Linked DNA regions of Homo sapiens: region 1 is linked to region 2. The links come from fine-mapping of genetic effects on gene expression. A gene starts in region 2. The other region holds a variant in brackets. All regions are shown on one strand. Distances are between the middles of the regions. Region 1 holds the start of LOC105371848 (a long non-coding RNA gene). Region 2 holds the start of HEATR6 (HEAT repeat containing 6).

Region 1 (10,613 bases), 63 kb before region 2:
ACAGAGGATCATGAGGACAGTGTGAGGAAGCTGCCCTCGGGCCAGTCGGGGTCTGACCCCAGGGCTCCCCAGGCCCCGCTGGGCACACGTAGACTTACTCTACTGAACCTTAAAGGCGATTCTTGTTATCGGCATCAACGCCTGTTCGCCTTCTACCAGATACACGTCCCACAGGCGCAGGGTGAGCCCGAGAGAGATCTGTGGGGACAGCAGGTGTGAAAGAACCTGGTCCTTCCAGGCTGGGGCTGGTGGCTCGAGCTGCGCACACTGGGGCTTCAGTCTCCTGAGTCAGTGACCTTCCTTCCCCATGAGGGTCGCCTGAGCCCTCCAGGACGCTGGGTCAGACAAGGTCTTGAAGCTCCTCATGGGAGGCACTCATTTGAGTGGGGATGTGGCTCCTGGAGAGAGGGGCTTGCCCAGGGCTTGAGGCTTCCCTGAGCCCTCTCAAGTCGGGTCCTGGCCCAGTCTGCCCATGAGGCTGGGCCTGAGCCCCAGCCATTGCCCTGGGATGACCCCTCTTGGGCAGAGGGTTTTGCTTGTGTGTCCTTTGGGGACCCGCCTGAGCCTCCTGTGGGCTGGGAGTGAGCCAGACCCCCGGGCTGGGGAAGCAGGGCACTGCAGGGCAAGGAGGGTCCCTGAGCCAGGGTCTCCCTATGCCTCCTTACCCCGTCAATCAATATCCGGATGAGGCAGCCTAAGGACGAACACTGCCCACATAGATCTTTCTTGTCCTGATGGAAGCAACAGAGGTGCTCAGGCCACTGGGCTGCCCTAAAAACCTCCCTCTTCCAGGGCCTCTGAAGACCCTTCCCCTAGTGCAGAACACTGGGCGGTGTCCAGAGCTCCCCACAACACTGTCACCTTCCCACACTCCCGGTGGACACGCTGCCCTTTGCCCTGCTCTGCGGGAGCTGGGCCCCCATCCCTGTGCCTCTGTCTCCTCCAGGGCAGGAAAGGAAACCAACTCCCAGCCCATGGAGAACCCGACGTCCCAGGTCAGGCCCTGGCTGGGACTCAGCCAGTCACCAGCCCCACGAGGGGCTCCAGCCCCCCTGCTCCTACAGCCCCACGGGAGGCAGGGCCTCTGGGAAGAGCTGAGGGGACCATAAACTCACCTGATGCCACATGGTGTTGGGTAGTGACGTGGCTACCACATGCTCCTGTTGGTCTTGGAGCCCCTGGACGGTCCCGCCATTTGGGCTGTGAAATCCTGAGAAGCCCCCAGCCCATCGTGAAATCAGAGCCTTCCCCCAAGATGTGGAGCCATCAGCTGCAAGAGCTGGGCAGCTGGAGAGGCCCCCAAACCCCAAGGCCTCCCACCCTCCCATCTGGTGACCCCAACATGCGGCCTTTACCCTGGGGAGGTGGGGCGGGAACAGTCCCTGGAGCCTGGCTGGAGGTTCCCCTGGAGGCCTCCTGGGCCAGGGTGCAAAAAGGGCAAGCCTGACTTTCAGGCCACCACAGGGCGGCTGGAACTGGGTGGGTGCTGGGCTTCCTGGTCATCTCCTGGTAGTGGGGTCGGGCCAGGGAACAGGGGATGGGGAGATGCTGCCACCTGGGCTTGGTCGGCCCATTCGTGGGCACCGATGGCAGCAGGAGCCCGGGCAGCTGGAGGGCAGGAGGACTCTCAGGGAGGGGGAGAGTCAGCTGCACAGAATCAGAGCCGGAGGGCGTGGCTCCAGGACACAGAGGGTGGCCACGGGGAGGATGAGATGCCCTCTGCTGATGGGGATGAGAGGCGTCTGATTTGGGCTTTGGGGGTCAGCCGTGGACTCCTGTGGGACCCTCAGCAGAGACATCCTAAAGTCTCCCAACAAGCTGGTGACACAAGGAGGGTGCCTTGGCTGAAAGCTGTGATCACCTGGCCAGGGTGGCCATCCCCAGGTCTGGCTGCAGGAGGTCCCCGGGGCAGCTGTTCACTTACCCTGCAGGGAGTGCCTCTCACTGGCCAGCAGCTGCACCAGTGCCCAGAATGCATCCTCCTCAGGAAGATAAAGGAGGAACAAGGCGGCGATGTGGCTCAGGTCCCTGCAGTAGCCCACCTCCTGCAAGAGCCAGAGTCACCATGGAAGGACATCAGCTGGGAGGGCTGAGCTCACCTGGGAGGACTCATGTCATTGGAGAGGGCAGAGGTGACTGGAGAGGCTTCCTCTGAAGGAGAGGCTTCCTCTGAAAAAGAGGCTTCCTCAGGATGCACATTCATTTCATGACAAGAGCCAAGTCCATCAGGCACTTCAGCACCTTGTCCAAAATGTCTGCTGATAGCACCATCCTGTGTGCGATGCTGCCAAGCTCCTGGGCTTTGGGGCAGCCCCAGGAGGACGGCGTCATTTCTTGTTCTGAGAAGTGGTGGTCAGGCCCAGGTGACACCAGGAGTCCAGGCCCTGACTCCTTTGTGTATCAGCTTGACCCCTTGAGACCACCCCCTTCCTTGGAGGTTTATGCCAGCAGTGAGCTGACATCCTACTTCCTATATCCTGGTGGGTCACAAATACTAATTTTAAAAGAAGCAACGACACCCCCACCAGACACCCACTCCTGTGAATATGGAAATATGGCCCGGGAACCTCACTGCCGGGAATACTCACCGGGTTATACTCCTCATACGCCAGGAGGATGTAAAGTAGTTCCCGCTGCCTAGGAAACAGAGAAAGGGGGCTTTGGTTTGTTTTGTGCAGATGTTGTTAATTTCACTTTGTCTACAAAGCCTAACAGCAAATCCCATTTCAGGTTCAGATGATTCACCGGATAAGCAGTGAGCTCTTCAGGGCCTGAGACTCTTGAAGAAATGTTTCAGTAAAATCCACATCTGTGACATGCAAATAGCCCAGTTGTACAGTGCCTGATCCTTTTCACTCTGAATGATTTTTTTTTTTTTTTTCAGTTTGCACACACCCCAGTTCAGTCTGTGGGTGTACAGTTCCTCCACGGTTCCAAACCAATGTGCAGAGTCTCCCGGCCACCGCTCCAGCCCCTCCTGGGGCGACTCCTTCATCCTCCAAGTCTCCAGGGTGGCCCCTATGCACCCAGCCTCTCCCCGATCCGTCAGCCCCTGGCCACCCAGACTGCTTCTCAGTCCCTGTGGTTTGGCCTTTTCCAGAATGGCCTAGGAATGGGAATCCTACTGTGGTAGCTTATTGGGTCTGGCTTCTGTCCCTCAGCAAAATGCATCTAGGATCCACCCACGTTCGTGCGGGCATCACTGGCTCGTTCCCTTTTCTCACTGGGTCTTCCGTTTGAAGGGAGGACCAGCCTTGCTCTCCCCATTCCCGTGTTGAAGGCCGTCCCCGAAGGCTCCGTGTGTGAGTGACGAGGAGTCAAGCAGTGAACCTGGCATGCAGGTTTCATGTGGATGTCAGTTTCCAAATCAGTGGGTTCAATCTCTGTGACACTTTGGGGATGCGTGGTTCAAGTCCATCGAGCTTTGTGAGCCACTGCCCAACTGGCTGCCAACGTGGCTGTGCCATGTCATGTTCCCAGCAGACCTGGATGAGAGTTTCCAGGACCCCTAATTCTCCCAGCATTTGGTGCCCTCTATCCTGCCACCCTCCCGTGGCTCCTACCATGGGTCCCCATGGGTCAGGGAGAGCACCTTTCACCATTGTGCATGATTTTGTTTGCTGCCTTCCATCTCCTCAGGATCCTCCTGGGTTCTGGCCCCACATGTTCCAGTCTGGCCCAGGGCTTGGAACCAGGGAGGTGCTCGGTTCATGGTGCCGGCTGCTCCCTGGGCCAGGAGAGCTCTTGGCAGCTGTGTCATCCCTCCTGGGTGACCCTGGCTTCTGCTCCGGGGAAGCCCCCATCCCTCTCATTCACCCCATCTCTGCTGGGACCCTGTGGCTTACTTGGTTCCGTATCGATCCCTGAAGAATATATGCCTCCTTAATGTCCCGCTTACGTCCAGGTCCATCTGCTGGATGTGTTCAGATGACCTCTTGCCCTTCTCCTTCATGATCTGTAGGGCAGGGCCAAGAGGAGGAAGCAGTCTCAGAACAGATGGAAGACTCCCTGCCCCCAGTGGCAGTCAGCCCACAGTCAGCACTTCGGGAAGGAAGGACAGAAGGAAGGTTTCCTTCTGCAGAAAGCTGCATTTTGGCTTGTTACTGAAGCCAGGGAGGGTCACCAGAGCTGAGTTTGTCTGTGGTGACTGTGTCACCATCTGTGCCCAGGGTGTTCATCTGACCTTCACCCCCAGCTCCCCAGGGTGGTCTTGACGTTCCCTCCAGCTGGAGACCTGGGCCCCTGACACGGCCTGTCCTGTTGGTTGTGCTCTGGCTGAGCGTACCTGGTATCTTCCGGGGTTTTTCAACTTGATTTCCTCAATGTTCAGGAGGACTGACCACATCGGGCCCCGGATGTTCATGGGAATTCCCTGGTACGCTCGATCTATGAGCTGTGGGCAGAAAACAATCTGGTGTCGCAGGCCACGGGGTGACCCCAGTGAGGACCAGAGCCCGGGGATTCTGGAAATTGTTGGTTTTGGCCCCATGATTCCTCAGTAGAGGTGAGATCAAGCTGGGACAGGGTCTCCCTTCCCAGGACTGAAAGAGTGGATGGACACTCAGAGTCGAAACTCTGATCTGAACCTTTTCCTTCCTTCAGGTCACCAGGGCATCCCTAGCCTTGAGCTCCGGGTAGTCCCAGCCCTAGATTCAGATTCCCTCCCAGCAAGGTGACGCTTGCACGAATAGGCAGGAAATCTGGCGACCAGGCCTGCAGTCCTCTGGGCGAGGACAGCGTGCCACCCACCCTCTGAGAGGCTGACGGCGCCAGGCCACAGCCATGGGTGCCTGTCCCCTGTCTCTGCAGAGAGTGCTTCCTCCCTCCACACATTACCTTTCTGCTGTTTTTGTAGGTGTCCCATTCTCCCAGCATTTTCACCCACTTGCTCTTTCGGCTGATCTCCCGCCGAATTTGCTGTCAAATGAGGCATGTTGGAGTTAGCGGAGCTGCCAGGCTTCCCAGAGCCGCCCGCGGATGCTGGGTCTTGGGCTCTGGAGCCCTGGTGGGAGCCAGCTGGAAGGAGCCAGGGAAGGGCAGACCTCAAGGGCTGAGAGCCTTTGAGCAAATGAGCACCAGTGGGCTGGCTTTGGGACCCCGGGATGTACCATCCTCAGGCCACAGCCACACCAGTCTTAGGTCCCAGCCTCTAGGTGGGATCCTGACACAAGCGCGCAGCCACCCCCAAGCCAGGACTGTGGTTCTCCTTTTGGAATTTTATCAAACTGCCAAAGTTAACAGCAACCTGGGGTCAGGTCCAGCAGGGACTGCTGCCCCTCCCAGTGACAGCGCGTTGCCCTCACCCGCCACCGCTCAGGCCAGCTGCTTCCTCTGCCTCACTGACCACCCGCCCAGTCCCTACGTCCCTGGACCAGCCCCTCCATGCATCAGGCTCTTACCTTCACCTCCCGCGCAGTCAGAGGAGGCAGCTCCGTCTCACTGTAAGGCAACCCAGGCAGAGCTGAGGAACTGCACGGGGCCTGGAG[C/T]GGCCCCAGCCTGGGTGCCGGCCCCCAGAAAGGACTGGCTCTGTCCCTTTCCAGCTCAGGGCTCAGCCCAGGAGAAGGCACAGGGAAGGGAGGACAAGGGCCTTCCTGTGGGGCTGACTCCCAGGAGGGGCAGGACCTGGGAGAAGAAGGAGTGTAGGGACAGCCTGGCCGGGGTTACTGGGGCCCCTGGCGTGGGGGGCGGTCAGGCTGCCCAGTGGGGCTGCCCGTCCTGGACTCGAGGTGGTGCTTTCTGCTGGAGCTGAGAAAGGTTAGCCCTGAGATGGGATGGGGGCCGCCCAGGGTGGGTGACCGGGCCCTGACAGGAGTCCCTCAGGGAGTGACCACATCACCCCGCCAGGGTCAAGGGAGCCTGCCCTGAGACCTGCCCCGTGTACTCTGGGTGCACCAGGGGCCCATCCCACTTGACAGCCCCAAGGCCCTTGCAGGTTCTGACCTCCCAGCATCCACCTGCCTCTCCCTGCACCCGAGCCACACACCCTGCGTTTCAGAAGTGGCACGGCTCATCAGCTCCCTCCCGCCCTACCTCCCCTGGGATCCTCTGTCTCTCCATCCTGTGATCCCTGAGGGATGGGCTCCTGGCTGGGCTCCTCTTACCCGGCCCCAGATCCCTTCCCAGCACCAGACCCAGGTCTTTAGCCGCGAGCCCTGCTGCCTCCCCGGCCTCACCGTGAGATGCCCAGAACGGGGCCCTGCCCATCTTCCCCCCGTTCTCCTAGGGCTACAGCCCCCATTGTCACCATGCCTTTTCCCCTCACGGGACAGTGAGGGCCATAGCTCTAGGGGCATGGGGGAGAACAGGGGCAGGTGGGCCCTCAGAGACCTGCTGGACAACAGCCCTGAGGCCGGGCCAGGCGTCCCCTCACCCTGTGGCCATAACCCTTGCATCTCACCGGGGTTGTCTCCAAGTAGACAGGGCCAGACCCTCAGGCTGCCCAGCTCCTCTTGTGCTCACTTGCCGACAGAACTGCTGAGCGCCCAGGGGCCTGACCTAGCCCAGTCTCCATTCCCACCAGCTCCCTAGATGGGCCCCACACCTCTGGCCTAACAACAACCTCGGGCTGGACCTGCAGGGGAGTCAGGGAGGAGTTCTGTCCCTGGAAAGGAGGTTGACCCGACCTGGTGAGACATGTCCTGCATCAGAAAGGCCTTTCTAAAAGCAAACCCATCCCTGAGCTGAGACAGGTGCTTTAGGGGTGAGGGGAGTGCAGAGGACTCACTGTACAATCCCCAAATGATCGACGTTGTTGTTGTAGCTTCCAAAAGACTTAGGCCCCTTGTCCTCTGGCAGCCCAGCTCGGTGTCCCTGTAGCCCAGAGGGAGCCTTGGTGAGGGGTCCAAGGTAAAGGGTGCAAGGGCCTGGGGGCATTGGCCACCCGTCCCTGCCCTGTGCTCCTAGGGAGCCCAGGACCCTTTGACCAGGGCACACTGGAAGAGGCCTCCCTCCAAGAAGCAGACCGACTTGTACCTTTTCGTATTTCATAATGATGTCCTCTCGCTCTTGTGCCCACCAACTACCCGCGACCTCTACCACGTCCATCCTGTGAGACAAAATTGTCTAAAGGTTACACTGTACGCGGCGGCTTCGGAGAACACCTGAACCGCTCTCGCCGGGCTCCCAGATGCTGGCTGGCTGCGTAACCCCCATTCCACCGCCGCCCCCAGGGAAAAAGGGGCCAGACCCAGTGGCCCACAGCTGCTCGAGTCTCTGGAGTCTCAAGTCCCAAGCAGGGGTGGGCATCTTCCCAAGGACTTGAGTACAGTGGGACCTAGACAGAGAATCCTGTTGTCCCCCAGTGCCATGAAATGGGGACACACCGGCCCCAGCAGGTTGAATGGTTTCCACCTGCCAAGGGTGAAGGGCCCATGATGGGCTATTCCAGGGATGTGGAGGCAGACTGGGGTCAGCGACCAGAGGTCTCTGTACAATCGGCCTCCTGGGATGCTCAGGGCCTCAGAGATGCCCAGTTTCCTACAGGGAACAAGATCTCTCCTGACTGCTCGGTTCTACTCCGCTCATCACTTTGGCTACCGTGGCTCTTCAGTCTGAACAGTGAAGCCACTTCAGGAATAACGCCTGTTGAGCAGGAGGGTGTTCGGTTTGGGGGATGAGAAAGATCTATTGTACGCATGGAAACCACGTCTCTTGCGGAGGGACTGTGGAGTCCACCATTCTGAGCCGTCCCAACAGGAGGAGGCTTCATTTTCCTGGGTCACTGAGGAAGAACAGTGGGTCCTTGGTCCTGGAGAACACCTGGATGGACCGTCCCTCCTGGGAATACTCGAGGCAAAAGGAGGGCGAGGCCTCAAGAGGACCACACAGAGCAAGAAATGCCTGGGGAGAACCCTAGTGCCCGGACCCCTTTGAACAGAAGGGAAGATAGTCTCCCCTCAGCCAGCCCTCCAGGGCTCCTTCATTTTCCACAGCTGCCCAAGGGCAGCAGGCTCCCCCGGACAAGGGACCATGTGTGTTCAGTGGGGCCCACAGCGACCATCGGGACCCAGCTTAGGGCACAGAGGTGTTCTGAGGACCGTCAGTGGATCTATACCAGTGGATCTGTACCAGTGGATCTGTACCAGTGGCTCTGCCAGGACCAGGCTCTGCCCCATCGGGATCGGAAACCTGGGCAGATTTGGGATCTAGGGCAGGGAGGTCACAGGGTTCAGGCCTGAATTCCAGCACAGCACACGGCAGGGCTGAGAGCAAAACTCAGGGTCATGTCCGGATTCCCAGGCCGGTTACTGCCTCTCTGACCCCAGACGTCTCATCTGTCGAATGGTTACATTTGGGAACAGCACCCACTCTACGAAGCCACCATGGAGACGAAAGAGCCAATCGTCTACACGGGCAGTGTAGAACGGGCGCCTGGTGAGTGCTCAGGGATGACCCTCCTCGGTAGCTGCCCCACAGAGGCCAACACCGCCCGCACCGTAGCCACTGTCTCCAAGTCCGCCTGGAGGGAAGAGAGCAGGTCACGCTCACCTGACTCTGATGAATCAGCTGGCCTGGGTCATGCCTCTCAGGGAGAAAACCTTTGAGTCCACAGAGCTGCTCACAGATACCACTGCCTGTGTGTAACTGCCGTAGAACACTGAGGCAGGCCAGAGAGCGGATAGGTGCTAAGCACCAGTGACATTCTGAGGTCATGGCACGCATCACAATGGGGCCTTGCCCGGGTCAGCAGCGCCCAGAGTCAGGGTCCTCCGCTGCCTGAGGCGTCAACATGCCTGCCTGCAATGTGTTTGTGCACGTGCGTGCACACGTGTATGTGGCTAAACATGTCTGTGCACATGTGTGTTGCTTCTCTGGCCAGGCCCGGCTGCCCCACTCATGTGTGCACCCAGTTCCTCATCACTGTCACCCCCGAGGCCCAGGGCCAGCATCAGAGCGCCCAGGGCCAGCATCAGAGCATCCATGGCTGCTCCCTAACCTCAGCCCTCCCTGCCCAGGGTGGTCCTGGGATACACATAGGGGTGGAGGGAAGTGACTGCTGCTGCTGCTGGATCTCAGAATACAAAAGCTAATACTATTACCTAATGGTCTTTTTAGTGTCTCTAATGGTATCGCTTTTTCATTTCTGATATTTTAACTGGGTATTTCTCTCCATGACCCTTGGATATTCTAGCTAGAGGATCCTGTGAGGAAAGTGCCGGGCACACAGTAGGGGCTCACTCTTCTAGACATGTTATCTAAAACCTGATTCATCTGTCCTTCCACGCAGGGCCTAGGGGATGCCAAATTCCAGGGTCCAGAAAGAGCTTGGGATAAAATGAAACTTCAAGGGGACGGCTTTGACCTGGGCTGAGTCTGCCTGTGCCGAGTCTGCCTGTGCCATCCAACTGGAGTCTCAAGTCCTGAGGCAGGACGTCCAGATGCCCCAGTGCAGGGTCCTCCTGATCAACACCTGTCCCCCTGTACTCATTAGCAACCTCACCCACCCTACTCTCAAAGCACACTTGGCTCTCATATCCAGGAGCTCTGCATCTGTAGATTCAGCAACAGCAGATGGAAAATATTCAGAAAATAAATTGGATGGTTATATTTCTATTGAACATGTGCAGACTTTGTTCTTGTCATTATTCCCTAAAGAATACAGTATCATGACCATTTATGTAGCATCTGCATTGTATTACACATCCTGAATAATCTAGAGATGGTCTAATGTCTACAGGAGGATGTGCATAGCTGATATGTAAATACTAGGCCATGTTATGTCAGAGACTTGAGGATCCATGGATTTTGTCATCCCCGGGGACCCTAGAACTAATCCATGGATACCAAGGGATGACTGTAGAAACTCACTCAGGAAGGCTTCTCATTGGAGGAAGGGCCCAGTTCAGGACACACAGGGACATCTCCCTGGACTACTGTCCATTCATCCATCCATTCATCCATTGTCTCCCCCCACCCCCCCATCTCGGACTGTCCCAATGACAGCCCTAGCAAGAAGAGACAAGCAACAAGATAAGTTCACGTTGTCCAGTTTTGAGGTATTGGAAGAAGTTGCACCGGTATGAGAATAGTGGGTCAGTTTTCTACAGGATCCAGAAAGCATATCGGGCAGCCTCGGGGTGCGGAAAGGAGCCTGGCCTCTCCAGCAGCCACACAGGCCTGCAGTAGGATGGGGCTGGGGCTGGCCATGTGGATCACTTGGGCCTCATGAGGGGAAAGGAAATACCAGGGGGCAGAAGAGGAGCATGGGGGCAGCTGGTTGCCTAAGGGGAAGGCACCTCAGGGAAGGGGACTGTATTCATTTGTTTTCACACTGATGTAAAGAAATACCTGAGATTGGGTAATTTATAAAGGAAACAGGCTTAATTGACTTGCAGTTCCGGAAACTTACAATCATGGCAGAAGGGGAAGGGGAAGCAGGCACCTTCTTCACAAGACGGCAGGAGGGAGTGAGTGGAGAACCAGTAAGTGCCACACTTTGAAACTATCAGCTCTCCTGAGAACTACCTCACTATCCGGGGAGCAGCACGGGGGAAACTGTCCCCAAATCCAATCTCCTCCCACCAGATTCCTCCCTTGACACAGGAGGATTACAATCCCAGATGAGTTTTGGGTGGGGACACAGAGCCAAACATGTGAGGGTCTCAGTCTATGTT
Region 2 (10,613 bases):
AGGAAATCCAAGTGCTGTTCATCAACAATTACCTAACAGGACAGGAAAAGATATATTCTGATCTAACTTTTAAAAAATATTATGCTTTTATGGACATGTATGCTCACCTGAATCAAGCTGTATAAAAGAGAGAGTGTGTGTCTGTCGTTTATGTGTCAAAAGGATCACCTCTAAAGGGCCTGAAAGTTTGATCAACGTAGGGGCCTTCTCCCCACCCCAAGGTCTTGCTCACTTCTTCCTCTTTAGTAAAGTAGAACTTGATGAAGTCCTTGTAACTTTTCCTTGAACTAACCAGACATTGGCAGCTGTGAATACACAGATATGAGTATTTCAACGCACTGAAATTTAATTAAACTGCCTTATACATAATAAACACTCAATGAATACACAGTGAACCAATATAACTGCTAAATACCTACTGCATCTCTAACATGACATGAGGAATACACCATGAAGAGAGGGCATATCCCTGCTGTCAAGGAGCTGATAATCTTGTTGGGACAGACCAGGCTAATCCAAGTGTCAATTTATGGACAATTGAGACAAACTGTCACCAAGTGCTGGAAAGCTGGTAAAGGGTTATAGGTGCCACAGGTGATCAGGAACATCTCCAATTGCCAGTGTTACAAAGATGATACACCTGAGAATAGTAAACATACAGAAGCTACCTCATGTTAGTTTCAAAGATTCTAAACTGAAAACAGCCTTACTCCATGCAGCAGACACTGTTGGTTACCTACTAGCATCCATTTCTTCCTTCCCTGCTGGCAGAGTACTAATTTAATTGGATGTCCACCTCTCCCATGTGAGACCTAAGGGTAAACGCTAATTAGTTTAAGAGAGTGGGGCAACCTGGGGCAACCTTAACCCCCAAGGAACATTTGGCAATGCCTGTATACATTTTTGACTGTCACAATTGGAGAGGTGCTACTGGCGTCTAGTGGGTAGAGGCCAAGGATGCTGCTAAACATTCCACAATGTGCAAGACAGCCCCTAAAACAATGATCTGAGCCAAAATATCAATAGTGCTGAGGTTGAGAAACCCTGATGTAGGCTAACTGTGGCTGCACATTGTAAGCATCAAGGGAGCTTAAGTCCTCCTCCAAGTGATTCTAATGTGTAGTGAAGGTTGAAACTACTAGCTGGAGCCATTCACAATAAGACCATCCTCCTGCTTAAAGACTGGTTTAGAGAGGTATTTATATGACCTAAGTCTCTCCAGCAAGATATTGGGGAGTCTACTAGAGAGTTCATGGGACACGTTTCCTTACTGTTAAGTACAAGAGACACAACATAAAATAAAGTTAATTAGCTTCTGCTGAACAGTAATCATTTCTTTGGCATGGGATGTCCAGAATTGGCACAGCCATCTTATGACTGTGAGACATGCTAGCTGAGGATAACCCACATGCTGAGGACGGTGAAGGGAAAGATGAGCCTCTTATTATTAAGGGGCTACAGATGCGTCCCTTGGGACTTGGGACATGGAGTGATTCCTTTTTATTTTTTTAAAAATTGTTTAGTGACTCTGGGATGGCTTTTCTGCTTATTGCAGCCAAAAGCATCCTAATTCACATAATGCTAGTTGATATGTTTTGTGCTCTTAAATATATTCACATACTCATGTGGTAACAGTCTTAAATAAATAACTGGGGTCTTTTTATCCTGCTGTCCCCTTGGCCCCAAGCTACTTCTTATATTTTAGAAGCATCAAAAGTAGACCATAAAAATGGTAGCTTCAGGAAAGGGGAAAAATATTGGTGGGAAAGAGGCAGGGGATTATTTCAATTTATTCTTAGATATATTTTGTTCAAATATATCTTCCATAAGAAATTATAAATTAGCCGGACGTGGTGGCGGGTGCCTGTAGTCCCAGCTACTTGGGAGGCTGAGGCAGAAGAATGGTGTAAACTCGGGAGGCGGAGCTTGCTGTGAGCTGAGATCGCGCCACACTCCAGCCTGGGCAACAGTGTGAAACTCTGTCTCAAAAAAAAAAAAAAAAAAGAAATTATAAGGTTGGGGGGCCTGAATGATATTGGTTTACTGAACCAAACAGAAAGGCATACTTCTAATAAACAAACTTCTAGAATTCTACAGAATAATTTTTTTGGATCAGAGTTATATTTGCTTTAAAAGCATTCTTATTTAGGCATTTGCTTTTCCTATAGCATCTCAAAAAACAGCCTATCATACCTACTACAGATGTAGTATTTCAAAGGTATTTACTTACTCTCAAAGTTCATGATCTGAATTCTAGAGTTACATACATGATTACCTGTAATCTGTTAAGTAAATGGTGGATAAGCTGGCTCACTTTGCTGACAAGATGATTCTGATTAAGAGGTACCAGTCGGCAAGCCTGGACAAGAAGAGCACTAACGTCCTACCAAAAAAAAAAAGATAAGAGGTAAAATACTTATTAGTCAAGTGAAGATCCTCAAAACACAGCCAAATGGGAAAATAAAAGTAAATATTCACATTCAAAATGGGGAAAGAAAATGTGAGGCAGGAAGGAAAAAAATGAAGTGATAGCACAAAAACAGCATGTGCTAAAAAAGAAGGAAAAAGCCAGGCACAGTGGCTCACACCTAATCCCAGTTCTTCCGGAGGTCAAAGCGGGAGGACTGCTTGAGCCCAGGAGTCCAAGACCAGCTTGGGCAACATAGTGAGACTCCATCTCTACAGAAAAAACTTTTTTAAAAAAATTAGCTGGATATGGTGGTATGTAGTCCCAGCTTCTTGGGAGGCTGAGGTGGGAGGATGGCTTGAGCCCAGGAGTTTTAGGTCACAGTGAGCTATGATCTTGCTGCTGCACTCCAGTCTGGATGACAGAGTGAGACCTTGTCTCTTAAAAAAAAGAAAAAAGAAAAAAAAAGGAAAAGAATCAGTACGGTTTTGGTCAGGCTGAAGACTCTGTGCTCTCTATATGTAAAGACAGTATAATTAAATAACCAGAAAAAGGCTTCTAGGGTATGAAAGCACAAACTGAAGCTAAAAATATCAAAAGGTAAGTGAACCAGATTTTCAATGCCATTGGGAAAAATCAGACCTAACACTTCTATGGATTTTATGCATAATTAGGGAATTCTTAAAAAAAAAAAAAAAAAAAGAGGGACCTATTTGCAAGTCACACTCTTCATCCATCGATGTTTATAGAATGACAAGGTTCTGAGCACCTACTATGTGTCATAGTGTGCTAGGTCTTTGGGCTCCAAAGGTAAAACAAACATGTTCCTGAACCTCAAAGAGCTCACAAACTAGTGAGAGAGAAAGAAACACAACAAATAATTAAAATAAGGTGAATCAAGTGCTGAAAGAATAAAGTACAAACTCTGTCCAGAAACAGTAATTAGGGAGGCCTTGTGGAGGTGACTGTAAAGCAGAATCTGGAATGATTTGAAGGATGAGGAGAAATTTGCCAGATAGGGCATCAAAAAACACTGCAAGCAAAGTGGACAGAGTATGCAAAAACCTGGAGGTGTGAAACACTAGTAGGTGCCTGAAGAACAGCAAGTTTTAAATGGCTGCACACAGGAACAAAAGGGGGAGTAACAGGAGAGAATGGAAGTTTTGTTGCAAAAGTATCCAATTACACAAATACAGCAAAAGTCCCCGACTACTGCCTTAATCTCACTCTGCTTCCTAATGACATACACTATTATTCTGTAGTCAATTCTTTCAGACCTTTTACTTTGCATATATAAACACACATATTTTAAAATCCCTCCTCCAGCTTCATACTGATCTCATTCTGTATGAATTGTCCTGCAACTTGCTTCAACCATTTACCAATACGTATTGAAGACTTTTCCAAAGCAGATTTTAAAGTTTATGAACAATTTTTTTTCCTCCTAAAGAAAAGATCATTCTGGCATTGGAGGAATGACTGGCTTGGAGAGGAGCTAGACAGGAGGCAGGAGATCAGTCAGAGGGGATCAGCGAACAGTCCAGGCATAAGTCGCCTTGCCTGAGGTCTAAGGCACTCGCTATGGGAATAGACAGGAGGGGATGAACTGAGAAATATATATGAGACACATTCTGAAATACCTGAGTTGGTCAGGATCTGGGATGAAGGAGGGAAGAACCAGTGTTTGTGTCTGGTGTGACTTGGTGGATGATGCATGTGTGTTGGAAGGTGGGATGGACTGGGGACGGGAATGCGTGTTTGGAGCTAATGAATTTCATCTTTAGGAACTGTCTAGTTTGAGATGCCTGTGCAAGCAGGCAACTTGCACCACTTCCCTCTTTCCTACGTAGGGCCAGAAGGCCATGGTGTCAACAGTTCAGAGAATTCATTAATTTAAGGCCTGATGTGTGTAAGATTACTCAGAAAGACGGCAGAGGGGAGGAGCTAGTGTGTAGGAACAGAAAACATAGGGGCTTTGTGGCAGAGTTTTGTATACTGTATTTTTACGAGCTTCAGTATTTTCATTAGCAAACAAGCCCTAATACTACGCAAGTTCTAAGATTCCCACGTGGTCCGTGTACCATGTACGCAATAAACAGTAGTAATGCATTTTGTCAACCAAGTGTTCTGGGTGCACAGAGAGGGAGTGAAGGAGGGTGCGGGCGGATGGAAAGTTGGTATCAGAGAGGAAACCCGAGGCATTATCAGAGCAGGAGTCGTCAAGTTGGGTTTTGAATGACTCGAGCGTGCCAAGCACTGCAGGGTCTTCCAAATGGAGAACTAAGAATGTGCCAAGGTTGGAGGGGGCACGCCATCCTGAAACTAAATCATCAGGCGCGAGAGTGGGAAGATCAGGGAAAGGCAGGCAGAGGCCACCAGCTGGGTTCCCGGAGGGGTGGGGCCGGGGCCGGGGCCAGCAGGGCGCGCCGCCTACCTCCGGGGCCACGCCACTGCCCTCGCTGTAGTTCTCGGAGATGAGCTGATCGAAGAGCAGGTGGATCTCGGTGCGGGCGGAGCTGCTGTCATCCGGGCGCAGGGCGCAGAGCCTGGCAGACAAGAGGCGAAACCCATTGCCTCGCTCAGGGATTGCTTCCCGCGGTGCCTCCCGCGGCTGCACGGAAGGCCACGAACCGACAACTTGCACAGCAGCCATCTTTTCTACGGGCGGGGGGGGTGGGTGGGGTGATCCCAGGGAAATACTTCCGGGACATCCTCCCGTTCCGCGCGCTCTAGTTCCGAAAGTACCTTTTTTAGACCGGACTGGGGCTCAGAGGGGTTTCCATGACTACGGGACTCCTCCGACCGGTACCCTGCAGATGCTTGTCAGAAATTGGCTTGGAGGCCGGGCTCGGTGGCTGACGCCTGTAATCCCAGCACTTTGGGAGGCCGAGGCGGGCGGATCACGAGGTCAGAAGATCGAGACCATCCTAGCTAACACGGTGAAACCCCGTCTCTACTAAAAATACAAAAAAAAAAAAAAAAAAAAAATTAGCCGGGAGTGGTGGCGGGCGCCTGTTGTCCCAGCTACTCGGGAGGCTGAGGCAGGAGAATGGCGTGAACCCGGGAGGCAGGGCTTGCAATGAGCCAAGATCGCGCCACTGCACTCCAGCCTGGGCGACAGAGCGAGACTCCGTCTCAGAAAAAAAAAAAAAGAAAGAAATTGGCTTGGAGATTTTTCGCCGGCCACTCCTTCTTGAGCCCTGACTGAAAAGTGAGTTCTCAATTTGTGCTTCCAGAAAGTTTGTCCTCCCAGAGTTTGTTCCTGGACAGGGCTGAAGGTACTCTGTTCCGTACTAGAGTTTCAGATTCGGGCTGGAGTTGGAGAGGGTATGCTGTGGATGGCAGTAGCAGAAACCGCTAGTTCTAAGGCACCCTTCTACTCTTCTAAAATCTTTCCCCAGGCACAAAACCACCCGGAATAAAGGCTACGTTCCCTAGCATTCCTTGCAGTTGGCTGTGGCTCTGTGATTGCAATCTGGTCAGTGGAATATAAGGCAGCTTTCCCTACTTAAGTGACAGCTGGCTGTACTCTTGGTTCCTTTTTCTCCCTTTTTCCCAGTGTGAATCCTCTCATGGATCATGAGGCACCTCGCCCCACTAGAAGAGTAATTTTGGAGTTTAACTGAATCATGTAAAATATAATCTGCCTAAGAGTGACCGGGTTGAAATGAGACACCCCAAGATTTTCTGAAACCTTGAAGTCAAGAAGCTGGAGAATAAAATGGCCATTTAAAAATCTGTGATCACTTTTCAGTCATCCAGGAAGTGAAGGCTTGACTTTCACAGTTGGGCAGATTGGGAAAACCATCTCTAGGGCCTTTGAGTTATGCAAATATAAAGCAAATCCTCACCCTTGGCCCTTAGGGAAAACCTTGAAGTCACCTGAATGTATGTTTTATCCTGAGAACAAAACATTTCTGTTCAGCAGTGAAAATTGGGGGTATGCTTTAGCAGAGGTAGTTTTCTGAAGACTTTGGGCTTGGGGAGAAATGTTAATTTTTTTGTTTGGATTTAGATTCCGTTGTGCTGGTATATTATTTCTTATTCCTAGTCTGTGTACATATGTGCGTTATATATGTGCATGTGTGTGTGTGTATTCGTGTAAAGAAATGTATTCAAGCATTTGTTCAGAGAAGATCAGGAGCTGAAACCTAGTCGTTGGATATTTTAATCTGGGTTCCCTGATAGCAGAGCCTCAGATGAGGTTGATAGGTGAGGGATTTATCCAGAAATGAACAGGGAAGGAAGGAGAATTAATACCAATATGTGCTATTGAGTTGGCCATTGCAAGGGGTGACTGATTGTTCAGTCCTCAGGAGTTTCTGAGAAGCCTTGTGAAGCTCTCAAAACCCTTCTTCTGAGGAACAGAGAGGAAAAGCATTTATCTGTCAGCTTTTGAAGTCTATTGTCAAAAGTTGACCACAAGGCATTAATTCACTGGTGTTCCTGTGTTGAGCATGCATCTGTGCTTGGTTCCTGGAGGAGTCCTATGTTGCATAGTCAAAGAAGCCCTGAGGCAAAAGTGAGGAAACTAGGTGCATATCTGAGGCAAGGCTCTCACCAGTTATACCTGTGCTAAGCTAGTAGATGCCTGTGATAAACTAGTTGCTGTAGCAATGGCTAGAGTAAGAATGTAAGACCAAGAGTATGTGAAGTAGTACTAAAGAGCTGTCTTACACATTGGGCTAGAAGGATGTGAGGCCTGGTCATTTCCACAATGCACGTTCGAAGAGACTGGAAAGGATCTGGGTTTGGTGTGGTTCACTTTAAGTTGCAATATGGATGACCTACATATTGTGTTATTCAGGGTGGAATGGCCCAGGAATTGTAAAATACAGTATACTGATGCCGGTCTGTTCAGTTCTGGTAGAATATACTGTTTTGGATCAGTGTGGTTCCTTTAAGGAAATGGACATCCCTACTCTGCAGTGATCACCAACTGAAGGAAACGTATCTCAAGCTCTGAGGGAGGCCTTTGAAGGCACCCTGCATTGGCTTGAGTTTAGACAGTAGCACTCCTGCTCCCACCTCCCACCCTGAAACTGTGGAAACACAGCATGGCAAAAGCTCTCTTCCAAGAAAATCTTCTGTCTCCTCCTCAATTCTCTGCATTTTCATAGTCCTGCAGTGACTGAGGGGCTTTAAGGGGTGCTAAGCACGTTCACAGCCATTTCCTTTGTTAGATTCTGCATCGGATGATCTGGAACCTCAGTGGAATTTCACTCCTTTCATGTGTGGAAACCTCTCAAGACTTCACTTTTATCCCTTCATGAGCGTCTGGGTCATCCTAACTCACGTAGGCTTGCATACCCCCACTTCACTCTAATTCACATCTTTGATTATTTCCTTCGGAAAATTTACCATAACCTGCAGTTATCTTGTTTATTTGATGACTTTATCATCTGTTTTCCCCTCTAGAATATTAACTTTATGAAGGCACAGTTCCCGTTTGTCTCATTCGCTGTTGTATCCCAGGGCTAGCACAGCCCCTGGGATGTGGTAGATGCCCCACAATATTTGTTAACAGAATGAATGAATTCACTAATTTTTTATTCAGGGTCCCCTATTTGCCACCGGTTGATGTGAAAATCGAATGGGATTTTTGTGAAAATGCTTTGTAAACTATAAAGTTTTATAAGTCTTAGTATCAAATGAGGTAGATATTATTTCCCCCTTTTATAGTTGGGAAAATGGTGCCGAAGAGTATAAATGGTTGGTCAAGGCTGCACAGGCAGCAAATTGGTTGAAATCAGATTGCAGCCCAGGCTGGCTGTGATTGTGAAGAACATAGACAAGAAATTATAAACCCATTGTTTTTTACCTCCCACATTTTGTAATGGGGAAAACCAGAAGACAGGAGCTTGATTTCGGTATCCAGATTACACTTTGAACCAGGAGAGGCTAGGAAGGAGGATTGGCCTTGAGTTCTGTTTCAGGGTCATCAGCCTATCTATGTGATTACATAGGAGTCCCCCCTTATCAGTAGTTTCACTTTCAGCCTTTTCAATTACCCGTGGTCAATCACAGTATGAAAATATGAAATGCGCTGGGCGCAGTGTCTCATGCCTGTAATCCCAGCACTTTGGGAGTCCGAGACGGGCTGCTCACTGGAGGTCAGGAACTCGACACCAGCTGACCAACATGGTGAAACTCCATCTCTACTAAAAATACAAAAATTAGCCGGACGTGTTGGCACACGCCTGTAATCCCAGCTACTTGGGAGGCTGAGGCAGGAGAATCACTTGAACCTGGGAGGCAGAGATTGCAGTGAGCCGAGATCACACCATTGCACTCCAGCCTGGGTGACCAAAGTAAAACTCCGTCCAAAAAAAAAAGAAAAAAAAAACGAAATGGAAATTTCCAGAAATAAACAATTCATACATTTCAACTTGCTGCTGTTCTGAGTAGCGTGATGAAATCTTGCGCCATCCCACTTCATTCTGCCTGGAATGTGAATCATCCCTTAGTCAAGCATATCCACGCTTTATATGCTACCCACCCGTTAGTCACTTAATAACCATCTCAGTTATGAGATCCACTGTCCCAGTGCTTGTGTTCAAGTAACCTTTATTTTGCTTAGTGGTCTCAAAGCATAAGAGTAGTGATGCTGGCATATTGTTATATTTGTTCTATTTTATTATTAGTTATTGTTAATCTCTTACTGTGCCTAATTTATAAATTTACTTTATCATAAGGATGTATTTATAGGACAGAACACATATATAGAGAGTTTGATACTATCCACGGCAGTATATGTAGAGTTTGATACGATCCACGGTTTTGTGCATTCACTGGGGGTCTTGAAACATATCCCCCGTGGATTAGGGGTACTACTGTGTTAATAATCATTGTAGTTAACACTTACTGAATGCTTTCTATGTGTCAGCACTTTATGTGACCCTCTTTAATCTTTGTAGTTTCATGAGGTACTATTATATATATGAGTCGAATCACAGAAAGATGAAGACTCTCACTGAAGGCCACATGGCTGTGTGGTGTGCCTGGGTTTGAAATTCAGAGTCAGGGCTCCTGACCACCATGCTATAATGCATAGGACTTATATGGCGTTCGACATGAGATTATAGTTTAGGCCCTGACACTTACCTGCTATATGACTCTGCCCCAAACCTCAGTGTCCTCAAATGGTAATGATAAGAAGTGCAGTCAAAAGGTTGTTAAGGTTACTTAGATAATGCCTGGGGAGAATTTAACATGGTCCTTGTTGATAGTCAGTACGCAACAAATGTCATCTGTCCTCCTCCCCCTCCTCCTCACCTTTAACCAAATAACTCAAATAGTATGAGTGCTTTTAACAATGATGATTTATTAAAAGAAACAACCCCTCTTCCCTGCCTCCCATATCCCCTGTAGTCTCCATCCACAGGCTTGCTGTTTTCATCCATCTTCCTAGTCAAGGAACTCCAGACAGTCACATCTTGGAAGATAGGAACTCCAGGAAGGGATGACGATCTTAGGGAAAGATGATCCTTAAGATAACTCTTCATCTGAGAAAAAGACAAAAAAAATTTTGCCCGAGACCTGCTGTTTTGGGGACCTGGATCCACAGAATACAATCAAGAGGCAACAGTTCCCAATTTGGGAAATCAATCACACCTGCAAAGAGCCAGCCAGGCCCTAAGCAGTCCAAGGATTGCAGGTGGATTGGCCAAACAATACATTCTGAACACAAAGGGTTTTTATTTAAAGTGTATGCTGATTCTGTTGTGTTTAGTGCAACTTAGTTTATAATCAAAACTGGTAGCTTTTTATTATGCATTTTTCAACTAATGGCTACTGAAAACAAATAAATTATCCTGTGAGGCCCCTGAGATATTTTCACAGAAAAGGGGTTCTCATAAGTCAACATGGCAATGTACATCACAGGGTTAAAATGAACATACTCTTTATTTTTATTTTTATTTTTATTTTTTGAGATGGAGTCTCCCTCTGTTGCCCAGGCTGGTGTGCAGTGGTGCGATCTCGGCTCACTGCAAGCTCCACCTCCCAGGTTCACGCCATTCTCCTGGCTCGGCCTCCTGAGTATCTGGGACTACAGGTGCCCCCACCACATCTGGCTAATTTTTTTTGTATTTTTAGTAGAGGCAGGGTTTCACCATGTTAGCCATTATAGTCTCGATCTCCTGACCTCGTGATCCGCCCGCCTCAGCCTCCCAAAGTGCTGGGATTACAGGTGTGAGCCACCGGG

What was found. PIP is the estimated chance that this variant, and not a neighbour inherited with it, causes the effect.
Region 1: its variant is fine-mapped to the expression of HEATR6 in whole blood (TOPMed, PIP 0.99).

The regions. Positions count from the first base shown.
Region 1 is chr17:60,010,455-60,021,067 of GRCh38, forward strand. It overlaps LOC105371848 (a long non-coding RNA gene), which reads left to right and starts at 8,692. Exons shown (of 2, transcript XR_007065868.1): 1 at 8,692-8,769; 2 at 9,227-9,557. It also overlaps the pseudogene TBC1D3P1-DHX40P1 and the pseudogene TBC1D3P1. RefSeq lists an enhancer at 104-603. The variant C/T (reference allele first, on the strand shown) is at 5,487.
Region 2 is chr17:60,073,855-60,084,467 of GRCh38, forward strand. It overlaps HEATR6 (HEAT repeat containing 6), which reads right to left and starts at 5,067. Exons shown (of 20, transcript NM_022070.5): 1 at 4,842-5,067; 2 at 2,276-2,383; 3 at 1-32. The coding sequence starts at 5,060. It overlaps HEATR6-DT (HEATR6 divergent transcript), which reads left to right and starts at 5,455. Exons shown (of 2, transcript NR_135648.1): 1 at 5,455-5,618. It also overlaps the pseudogene WFDC21P. RefSeq lists a silencer at 4,724-4,853.